Regions from separate parts of the Homo sapiens genome. Here region 1 is linked to region 2. Evidence: fine-mapped expression QTL. A gene starts in region 2. The other region holds a variant in brackets. All regions are shown on one strand. Distances are from middle to middle. Region 1 overlaps ITGA10 (integrin subunit alpha 10). Region 2 holds the start of ANKRD34A (ankyrin repeat domain 34A).

Evidence for each region. PIP is the estimated chance that this variant, and not a neighbour inherited with it, causes the effect.
Region 1: its variant is fine-mapped to the expression of ANKRD34A in whole blood (TOPMed, PIP above 0.99). The same link has a PIP of 0.9 or more in blood mononuclear cells.

Annotation. Positions count from the first base shown.
Region 1 is chr1:145,902,759-145,908,093 of GRCh38, reverse strand. It overlaps ITGA10 (integrin subunit alpha 10), which reads left to right. Exons shown (of 30, transcript NM_003637.5): 2 at 629-740; 3 at 944-1,053; 4 at 1,270-1,361; 5 at 1,586-1,700; 6 at 3,283-3,410; 7 at 3,894-4,042; 8 at 5,133-5,283. Among named protein-coding and RNA genes, the nearest start is that of ITGA10, 4.6 kb to the left of the region's middle. The variant T/C (reference allele first, on the strand shown) is at 2,697.
Region 2 is chr1:145,962,147-145,967,521 of GRCh38, reverse strand. ANKRD34A (ankyrin repeat domain 34A) reads left to right here and starts at 2,947. Exons shown (of 4, transcript NM_001039888.4): 1 at 2,947-3,338; 2 at 3,985-4,212; 3 at 4,554-5,101. POLR3GL (RNA polymerase III subunit GL) reads right to left here and starts at 2,832. Exons shown (of 8, transcript NM_032305.3): 1 at 2,754-2,832. RefSeq lists an enhancer at 2,936-3,105 and a silencer at 3,421-3,715.

The sequences.
Region 1 (5,335 bases), 59 kb after region 2:
GGAAGGAATGTTGTGGAAAAGAGTAGCCAGGCGCGGTGGCTCACGCCTGTAATCCCAGCACTTTGGGAGGCCGAGGCGGGCGGATCATGAGGTCAGGAGATCGAGACCATCCTGGCTAACACGGTGAAACTCCGTCTCTACTAAAAATAAGAAAAATTAGCCGGGCGAGGTGGCAGGCGCCTGTAGTGCCAGCTACACGGGAGGCTGAGGCAGGAGAATGGCGTGAACCCAGGGGGGCGGAGCCTGCAGTAAGCCGAGATCACGCCACTGCACTCCAGCCTGGGCGACAGAGAGACTCCGTCTCAAAAAAAAAAAAAAAAAAAAAAAAAAAAAAGTAACTTGACCTTTTCAGACATGTCTGTGAATGAAATTTCAGGGGTGGGAATGGAAATACAGCTGTACATCAGCATGGCAGAGGGCCACAGTTTAGGCATCTGGACACAAACACAGGAAGGGAATCATCTTTGCCTGGAGCTCTGAGTACATGACACTGAGAGAGGCCAGAAAAGCTTATGAGTGAAAAAGCAGGCAGGCAGACTGAGATTAAGACGCTTCCTCACAGCTTCTCTCGGGCTGTGCCTCTAGCCATTCACTACCTCATACTAACATTATGATCCTGACCCCACAGGTCTCTGCTCCCCCTTTAACCTGGATGAACATCACCCACGCCTATTCCCAGGGCCACCAGAAGCTGAATTTGGATACAGTGTCTTACAACATGTTGGGGGTGGACAGCGATGGTGAGGAAGAAACCGGAGTGCCAGGGGATTGGGACTGCAGTAGTGCTAACAAAGGGGAGGCAAGATAGATGGGACTCTAAACTAATCTGGTCTTTTGAAAGTGGCTGGGGCTCTAAACTTACCACCTCCATGCTCTTTCCCTTTGGCCTATGTCAAGGGTCATGTTTGCCCTGTGCTTACTTACATTCACATCCTCTTCCCAGGATGCTGGTGGGCGCCCCCTGGGATGGGCCTTCAGGCGACCGGAGGGGGGACGTTTATCGCTGCCCTGTAGGGGGGGCCCACAATGCCCCATGTGCCAAGGGCCACTTAGGTGAGAAGATGCCTGACCCTTCTCCTCCTAACCCCTGACTTTGATACTCTAGAAGCTTCAACTCCCTATACCTCAGCTTTTTCACCCCTAAAATCCGCATACTCCCTGTCCCCAATCTGATACCAATCCCTGCTCATTCTCCTCCAAAATCACATGAATTCAAGCACCCCATCTATGACCCCATGATCTCATTCTCTTCCACCTCCTTCCAACCAGGTGACTACCAACTGGGAAATTCATCTCATCCTGCTGTGAATATGCACCTGGGGATGTCTCTGTTAGAGACAGATGGTGATGGGGGATTCATGGTGAGCTAAGGAGAGGGTGGTGGCAGTGTCTCTGAAGGTCCATAAAAGAAAAAAGAGAAGTGTGGTAAGGGAAAATGGTCTGTGTGGAGGGGTCAAGGAGTTAAAAACCCTAGAAAGCAAAAGGTAGGTAATGTCAGGGAGTAGTCTTCATGCCTCCTTCAACTGGGAGCATGTTCTGAGGGTGCCCTCCCAAGCCTGGGAGTAACTATTTCCCCCATCCCCAGGCCTGTGCCCCTCTCTGGTCTCGTGCTTGTGGCAGCTCTGTCTTCAGTTCTGGGATATGTGCCCGTGTGGATGCTTCATTCCAGCCTCAGGGAAGCCTGGCACCCACTGCCCAACGTGAGCCAGAGGAAGGCTGAGTACTTGGTTCCCAGAAGGAGATACTGGGTGGGAAAAAGATGGGGCAAAGCGGTATGATGCCTGGCAAAGGGCCTGCATGGCTATCCTCATTGCTACCTAATGTGCTTGCAAAAGCTCCATGTTTCCTAACAGATTCAGACTCCTGGCCAGGTGTGGTGGCCCACACCTGTAATTCTAGCACTTTGGGAGGCCAAGGTGGGCAGATCACTTGAGGTCAGGAGTTCAAGACCAGCCTGGCCAACATGGTGAAACTCCATCTCTACTAAAAAAAAAAAATACAAAAATTAGCTGGGTGCGCTAGTGCATGCCTGTAATCTCATCTACTCGGGAGGCTAAGACAGGAGACTCTCACTTCAACCCAGGAGGTGGAGGTTGCGGTGAGCCAAGATTGTGCCTCTGCACTCTAGCGTGGGTGACAGAGTAAGCGAGACTCCATCTCAAAAATAATAATAATAATAATTCAGACTCCTTATCAGGAGTCCATGATCTGGCCTGGCACAGTAACTCATGCCTGTAATCCCAACATTTTGGGAGGCCAACGCAGGAGGATTGCTTGAGGTCTGGAGGTTTGAGACCAGCCTGGGCAACATAGAGAGACCCCATCTCTACAAAAATAAAAAATAAAAAAATTAGCTGGGTATGGTGGTGCATGCCTGTGGTCCCAGCTACTCAGGAGGCCAAGGTGGGAGGATCACTTGAGCCCAGGTGGTCCAGGCTGCAGTGAGCCATGATTATGCCACTACACTCCAGCCTGGGCGACAGAGTGAGACTCTGTCTCAAAAACAAACAAAATGGGCCAGGCGTGGTGGCTCACGCCTGTAATCCCAGCACTTTGGGAGGCCGAGGCCAGTGGATCACGAGGTCAGGAGATCGAGACCATCCTGGCTAACAGAGTAAAACCCTGTCTCTGCTAAAAACACAAAAAATTAGCCGGGTGTCGTGGCGGGCGCCTGTAGTCCCAGCTACTCGGGAGGC[T/C]GAGGCAGGAGAATGGCGTGAACCCAGGAGGCAGAGCTTGCAGTGAGCCGAGATTGCGCCACTGCACTCCAGCCTGGGCAATAGAGCGAGACTCTGTCTCAAAAAAAAAAAAATGTTCTCTACCCACATGCCTTTCCTAATATTCTCTTCTCCTTAAACATTTTCAGTCTTCATAGTTGCTACCATGTTTCATTCCTCACCATCAGAACCACTCTGCTTTTGTTCCCCCACCATACAGTCATTGCTATGTTCCTACATAGCATTTAATTCCTTCTTGTTTTTTAGAACATTGTATATATAAATTATATCTATGTATATAAATGTGTAGGTGTGTGTGTTTATATACCTATATATACATATATACATATATATACATTTATATGTATACTTACATACACACAATTACTAAAGATTACTAAAGGAATATTTTATTAATTTCTACACTTACACAGAGCCTGGCACAGTACCTTCTTTGCATGTAAGAAGTGCCTTATAAATGTCTAAATTGAATGTGTCCTCCTGTGACCTCTTTCCCTTGTTGCCCCCAGCTCAGTGTCCTCTACCTCAGTGTTCTCCTTCCTTCTAGGCTGCCCAACATACATGGATGTTGTCATTGTCTTGGATGGCTCCAACAGCATCTACCCCTGGTCTGAAGTTCAGACCTTCCTACGAAGACTGGTAGGGAAACTGTTTATTGACCCAGAACAGATACAGGTAAGAGAAGGCAATATGAGCTGGGCACAGTTGCTTGTGGCACCTACTTAAGAGGTGGAGGTGGGAGGATCCCCTGAGGCCAGGAGTTCAAGACTAGCCTGGGCAATACAGTGAGACCTCATCTCTAAAAATATGAAAGAAAAAAAAAATAGCCAGGCATGGTGGCATGCGCCTACAGTCCCAGCTACTCAGGAGGCTGAGGCAAGAGATCAGTTGAGCCCAGGAGTTTGAGGCTGTAGTGAGCTTTGATCACACAACTGCACTCCAGCCTGGGTGAAAGAGTGAGACCTCATTTCTTAGAGAGAGAGAGAAAGGCAATATGGATGGGCTTGGAAGGGGAGAGACAGAGAGAGAGGGGATAAATGTAGGTGTTGTCTTCAGTAGTATCCAGGTGTTCATCTCTCCTCTCTTATATACTTTCTTCTTCCTCCTCTCCCCCCATCTCACATACATACATTTCATTTGAATGCGCTTTATTCCCAGGTGGGACTGGTACAGTATGGGGAGAGCCCTGTACATGAGTGGTCCCTGGGAGATTTCCGAACGAAGGAAGAAGTGGTGAGAGCAGCAAAGAACCTCAGTCGGCGGGAGGGACGAGAAACAAAGACTGCCCAAGCAATAATGGTGGCCTGGTGAGGCATTGGGAAGACAGGTGTGGGAGGCTAGAGCAATGAAGGCTTAGAAGAGTTAGGGCGGGGCCAGGCATGGTGGCTCACGCCTGTAATCCCAGCACTTTGGGAGGCAAGGCAGGCGGATCACCTGAGGTCAGGAGTTCGAGACCAGCCTGACCAACATGGAGAAACCCCATCTCTACTAAAAATACAAAATTAGCCAGGCATGGTGGCGCATGCCTGTTCAGAGGCATGCTACTTCGGAGGCTGAGGCAGGAGAATCACTTAATCCCGGGAGGTGGAGGTTGCAGTGAGTCGAGATCACAACATTGCACTCCAGCCTGGGCAACGAGAGCAAAACTCCATCTAAAATAAAATAAAATAAAATGAAATGAAAATCTTTCCCTTAAAAAAAAAAAAAGAAGAAGAAGAAGAGTTAGGGCAGGTTTGGAGTGCAGTGTGTATATCCCAAGATGTCTTGCATACTTTCTTTGTATGTACACTAATGGTACAAAGAGGAAGGCTAAGTGGGCTGTCATTGTACTCCCTCTCACTGCATTTCTACAAAGTATCTATGTCTGTGTCTCTCCATATTTCACAGACAGAAGTCTCTTTCTATCCCTCCACTCCAACAATGATCCTGGCCCACAGGTTCTCCACTACTGATGTCCTAGCCCACGTTCCAAACATGATCCAAAACTCATCTCTAGGGGCACGGTGGTAAAATTGAAACAAAACAAAACAACTCATCTCTGGGAGGAGTCCCTGCCCAGATCATTCTTTTCCGTTCTATATTTCATCGATATTTCCCCTCCCAAGTGCAATATTTGTTGAATGAATCTGAGTGTATGAACGTTGTACTTATTTGGACTGATAAGCTACTCTGTATGTTCTATGACCTTCAAACATTTGAGCTCTCACTCCATGCCATCTCCATGTTAAATACTCAGGAAATGGCCTAAAAGGCAAGATGCCTGACCTCAGGGAAGTGCTGATGTTAAATCCTGTGTGTGTGTGTGTGTGTGTGTGTGTGTGTGTGTGTGTGTGTATGTGTGTGTGTGTGTGTGTGTCTGCATACATCTGATCTCACCTCACTCCTTTCTCTTCTCAGCACAGAAGGGTTCAGTCAGTCCCATGGGGGCCGACCCGAGGCTGCCAGGCTACTGGTGGTTGTCACTGATGGAGAGTCCCATGATGGAGAGGAGCTTCCTGCAGCACTAAAGGCCTGTGAGGCTGGAAGAGTGACACGCTATGGGATTGCAGTGAGAATTCACCCTGGATCTGGAAGAGTTGGGGAGTGGCAGGGGGGCAGTG
Region 2 (5,375 bases):
AAATGGGCAAAGGACATGAACAGGCAACTGGCAAAGAGAATGGCCATGTCTGGACATGGTGGCTCACTCCTGTAATCCAGGGTTTTGGGAGGCCGAGGTGGACAGATCACTTGAGGCCAGGAGTTCATGACCAGCCTGGGCAACATAGAGAAACCCTGTCTCTACTAAAAATACAAAAAATTAGCCAGGCACAGTGGTACACACCTTTAATTCCAGCTACTCAGGAGGCTGAGGCATGAGACTCACTTGAACACAGGAGGTGGAGGTTGCAGTGAGCTGAGATCTCACCACTGCACTCCAGCTTGGGCAACAGAGCAAGACTGTCTCAAAAAAAAAAAAAAGGAGAGAGAATGGCCAATAAAACCACTCTTCACCTATGAAAGTGACAAAGATTTAAATAATAAGCAGGCTGTCATGAGTTTTTTTTCAAATGGACACTCTCATACCTCACTGGAAAGACTATAAACATAATATTTCAAGGGGAGCAATTTGTCCAGTTAAATCAACAGCCTTTGAAATGTTTATATCCCTAATCCAGCAATCCCACTTTAAAAATATATTCCAAAGACATCAACAGATATACAGTCACAGATATAAGTAAAAGGATATTCATCAAAGAGCTATTTATGGTAGCAAAAATTCTGAAATAACTGAAACAATCTAACAATAAATGAATGGTTAAAAAATACCCATTTTATTTATTTATGTTCTTTTTATTTTATTATTTTTTTTTTGAGACAGTTTCACTCTTGTCGTCCAGGCTGGAGTGCAATGGCGCAATCTCAGCTCACCGCAACCTCCACCTCCTGGGTTCAAGTGATTCTCCTGCCTCAGCCCCCCGAGTAACTGGGATTACAGGCATGCGCCACCATGCCTGGCTAATTTTTTTTGTAGTTTTAGTAGAGATGGGGTTTCTCCATGTTGGTCAGGCTGGTCTTGTACTCCTGACTTCGTGATCCACCCGCCTTGGCCTCACAAAGTGCTGGGATTACAGGCATGAGCCATCACGCCCGGCCTCTTTTTTTTTTTTTTTTTTTTGAGACAGGTTCTTGCTCTGTCGCTTAGGCTGAAGTGCAGTGCAGTGGCAATTTTGGCTCACTGCAGCCTCGACTTCTCCAGCTCAAGCAACCCTCCACCTCAGCCTCCTGAGCAGCTGGAACTACAGGCCTGAGACACCATGCTTGGCTATTTTTTTTGTAGTTTTTGTAGAGACAGGGTTTTGTCATGTTGCCTAGACTGGTCTTGAACTCCTGGGCTAAAGTGATCTGCCTACCTCAGCCTCCCAAAGTGCTGGAATTACAGGCATGAGCCACCACGCCCAGCCAGAAATGGCTTGCTTTTAAGAATGCTACCAATTCCACTGTAAAAGGACAGATTTCCTTTTTTTTTTTTTTTTTTTTTTTTTGAGAGGGAGTTTTGCTCTTGTTGCCCAGGCTGGAGTGCAATGGTGCGATCTGAGCTCACTGCAACCTCCGCCTCCTGGGTTCTAATGATTCTCCTGCCTCAGCCTCCCCAGTAGCTGGGATTACAGGCATGCGCCAACACGCCCAGCTAATTTTTGTATTTTTAGTAGAGACAGAGTTTCTCCACGTTGGTCAGGCTGGTCTCCAACTCCCGACCTCAGGCGATCTGCCCGCCTCGGCCTCCCAAAGTGCTGGGATTACAGGCATGAGCCACCGTGCCCAGCCATATTTCCCTCTTTTACAGTGGAAGTGTGGAATGCATTTCCTTTAGCTATATATTTCTTATTTAGAATATTTGTAGGATATTGACTAAAGAACAGGTATCAAAAAATTGAATGATCTACAAGAGAGATAAGAGAGTTCCCTTACTAAAGATGTTTACATAGAAGCTGGGTAAAAATTTACTACATAGGGTTTGTAAGAAGGATGCATGGCTCTAGTAGAGGATTCCCTATGATCAGCATGATTTAGCATTGTGTCTGGCATATAGTAGGTGCTCAATAAATATTTATTGAATGAATAAATACATCATTTCTATGGGCCTTTCCAAACTTGAGAAATTGTGATCCATAAAGCCTCCCCTCACCATTCCAGTTCTCCTTGCTTTCTTCCTTCTCTAGATTGTAGAAACAATTATGAAACACTAATATTATGAACCACTAATTTAATGGCTCTTAATTACATACTGTATTGTCTTTTATTGTTCCCTAGTTATGTTAGGAGTTTAAATTCTGCCTCCCCAAAAAGAGTGCTAGTTACCAGAAATCAATTCTATTTAACTAACGTTTATTGGGCACTATATATTAACTACTAGCACCTGTCCTACAAAACCTTCTATTCTAAAAGGCATAGAAACGTTAAAGAGAGACAGTGCACTAAGTGTCCTAATAAAGGTATATACAAAACGCTATCGTAGACGGGGGAACAATTCATTTTGCAAGAAAGGCGGCCCAGGAAAACTACAGGTAGCATTTCAGCTAGTCTTCATAGATAACAGGAGTTTGTCAGGCTCTTGGGATAATATTAATAGATTAGGGGGAAGTTGATGCTATAGCAAAGACAGATACAAGAGGCTGTCTCGTTTTCTGCTTTAATGTCTCTCCCCATGCGCGATAGAAAACTGCCATTCTCTAGTATACAATCAATACAGAAATGGAAGCCCAGGGGAGAAACGGTAGGGAGCCAGAAGGGGGCTGATCCAACAACCTGACGGAAAGCGTTGTCTATTTCGCAGCCTGGCCGGGGTGAACAAGTTTGGCAAGTGTCGGACCGAACCAGGTCAAGCCTTACCTGCTGCCCCTCCCCAAAGCGGAGCCCAAGCCGCGACCAACTTGAAATGTACTGGGCTTCCTCAAGTCGGTGGCGTTCTAAGCCCGCCTCCCGGAGCTCCCTATTGGTGAGTTTTCTCGGCCAATGCAGGAGAAGCCGAGGAGGGAAGTCCGCCCTCTTGAAGCCTAGGAAGAGAAGGAGGGAGGGAGCGAGTACGCCCGGAACCGAAGCTTGCGAAGCGGGTCGCAGAGAGAGATGGGCGTTGCAGAATCAGCTGGGGTCACTTATTTCCGGTCTCACTCCAGATGAAGGAGCCACTAGCCGGCGAGAGTTCACCGAGGGAACGTGACACTCATATCTCATCGAGGGACCGTGTTGAGGGAGCCCCTACAGAGAGGCCAAAGGAGGAGAGGGCCTACGGAGAAATGAACCTCTGTAAAAGCTGCTCTTTAGGGATCAGTCTTTTTGTGACTCTAGCTTCATAGCTTGGTCTCTCCATTACTCCAGCCTTCCTTTCAATCATACACTGCCTCTCTCCAGCACCACCAATGGATACTTCTTTTCTAAAAATGTTTTTCTGTGGGTTGCTGCCGTGTCTGTGAGAAGGTGGGCAGAGGGTTCAAGAAAGGAAGGATTTGGGATCAGCGTACCAGGGTTGGGGAGACAGGGCAGGAGCCCAGCTTTTTCTGCATTTTCCACTACTTTCCACTTCCTGCGAGCTCCTTGGGAAAGCCAGCAGAGTGGAAGGAGGAGTCCTATTTTCACAGAAAGCAGAAACAAGGGAGAAAGGTTCAGAATGGAGATGAAATCTAGGAGTTAGTCAAGAAGAACATCCCAGATGTCAGAGAAAATGGCCTGTAGACTGGGAGGCTGTAGGTGTAGTGGCAAGCTCCCAGTCTTTGCCATAGGACAGAAACATAGCTGTGAAGCTTTGGAGAGCTTGCTTAACCTTATTAAGTCTGTTTCCTCATCTGTAACAAGAAGATGATAGTTCCTATCTTATAAAGTTGTGAGGATTGAAAATAGTGTATGTAAAGCACATGGCACATAGTTGACACGTGTCCAAGAAATAACTAGTAAAAATGGGTAGCTTCCTGCAAATATTTCTCTCTCTCTCCCATCCCCGGGAACATTATTTTCAGTATCTTGCATCTGGGGGGCCTCCAGCCTCTGAATTAGCTCAGGACCCTGAGTGAACTTTTTAAATCCTTAGGATTTTTCTTTTTCTCCCACTTCCCTTGGTGCCTTCCAGCTGGACACAAACTCATTCCTAAAATATGTGGATGGAAGCTATGGTAACCATGGAGACAGGGCAGGTGGCAAGGAGAGGCAGAGACAGTGTGAGAGACCAATAGACAGATAGGAAGAGAGAAGATATAAGGAATGTTTCAGACAGAGATCGTCAAGCAAGATGGAAAAAATAAGACGTCTAAGCAAGACTGAGATTAAAGAGATGCAATGTGAGAGAGTGTATTACAAGGTTCGCTCTTCTTCCTGCCCCTGTCCTATCTCCCTGCCCACAATAATACGGGGTGGAGGCACCTGGAATGTCCCTTGCCTTATCTAAAAGTGCTCCCATATCCACCTTCCTCATACTTATCTAAGAGGTCTACATAAGGGAGCTGAGGTCCAAGTTTCTCTGCGATGGGTGTTCCGTTTTTGAGAGATGGGGCGGGGGTGTATCTGTGTCTGACTCCAGGCTGGACCGTGATCTCCTTCACAATTAAACTACAGGAAGAAAGCCACATCTCTTGCCTCTCTTTGCACAGTATGGACACCGGCTGTGGATCCAAAAAGCCTTTCTACACCTTTCTTACACAGTGTGCCATGTGCCGTGTATGGCAGGTCAGGTCTGGCGCACAGGAGCGCACAAACACACCAAGTGCGGAGAATGGGGATCTGCTGAATCTCAGCGAAGAATCTGGATGATGGTCCCTGTCTGGGTCGCGGAGGAGTCCCCTAAGGAACACTTAGGTTTGTTGGGGCTGAGGGGAGGTCGGCTGAGAAAAGGAAGTCAGGATTGGAGCCTCTAGGTTTTTGAGGGTTTATGTGTGCATGAGTGGGGGAGCAGTTTGGTGCCTGACGCCCCCACCCGCAGTGACTAGGCTATAAATAGCACAGCAGAGCTCCGCCCCCCCCCCCCCCCCCCCCCCCGCCAAGCTTCTCTCCTCCCGAGCCGGCGCTGTGCCCGGGGCGCTCCGGGAGGAGGGACCAGGATCCGGCGCCGGGGCGCAGATACTGACACCAAGGGAATCCGGGTGCCCCCCCCCCCACGCCATGCGGGCCCCCAGGAAACTGGCTCCGCCACCTCGGCTGCCCCGTGGCCACGGCCCCAATCCTGGCCAGGCGGAGATTCTGCGGACATTCAGGTATCTATCTGGGCACACAGCCTGGGAGGGGAAAGAGCAAGGAGTGATGGGGAACATCGCAGGGGCAATAGAACCCCCCAATTCTCCCTCCACCCGTTTTAGGTCTCAAATGCAGGCTGCTTCCCTCCCCCCACTCAATTTTTGGGGTTGTGGCAAGCTAAAACAGGTTAGGAATGAGAATACATGTGTGACTGTAGGGTGCATGTATGTGGGTGGGTGGCGTTCAGCATCCTAGAAAGGGGGATCCCAAGTGTGGATAAGACAAGGGGGACAG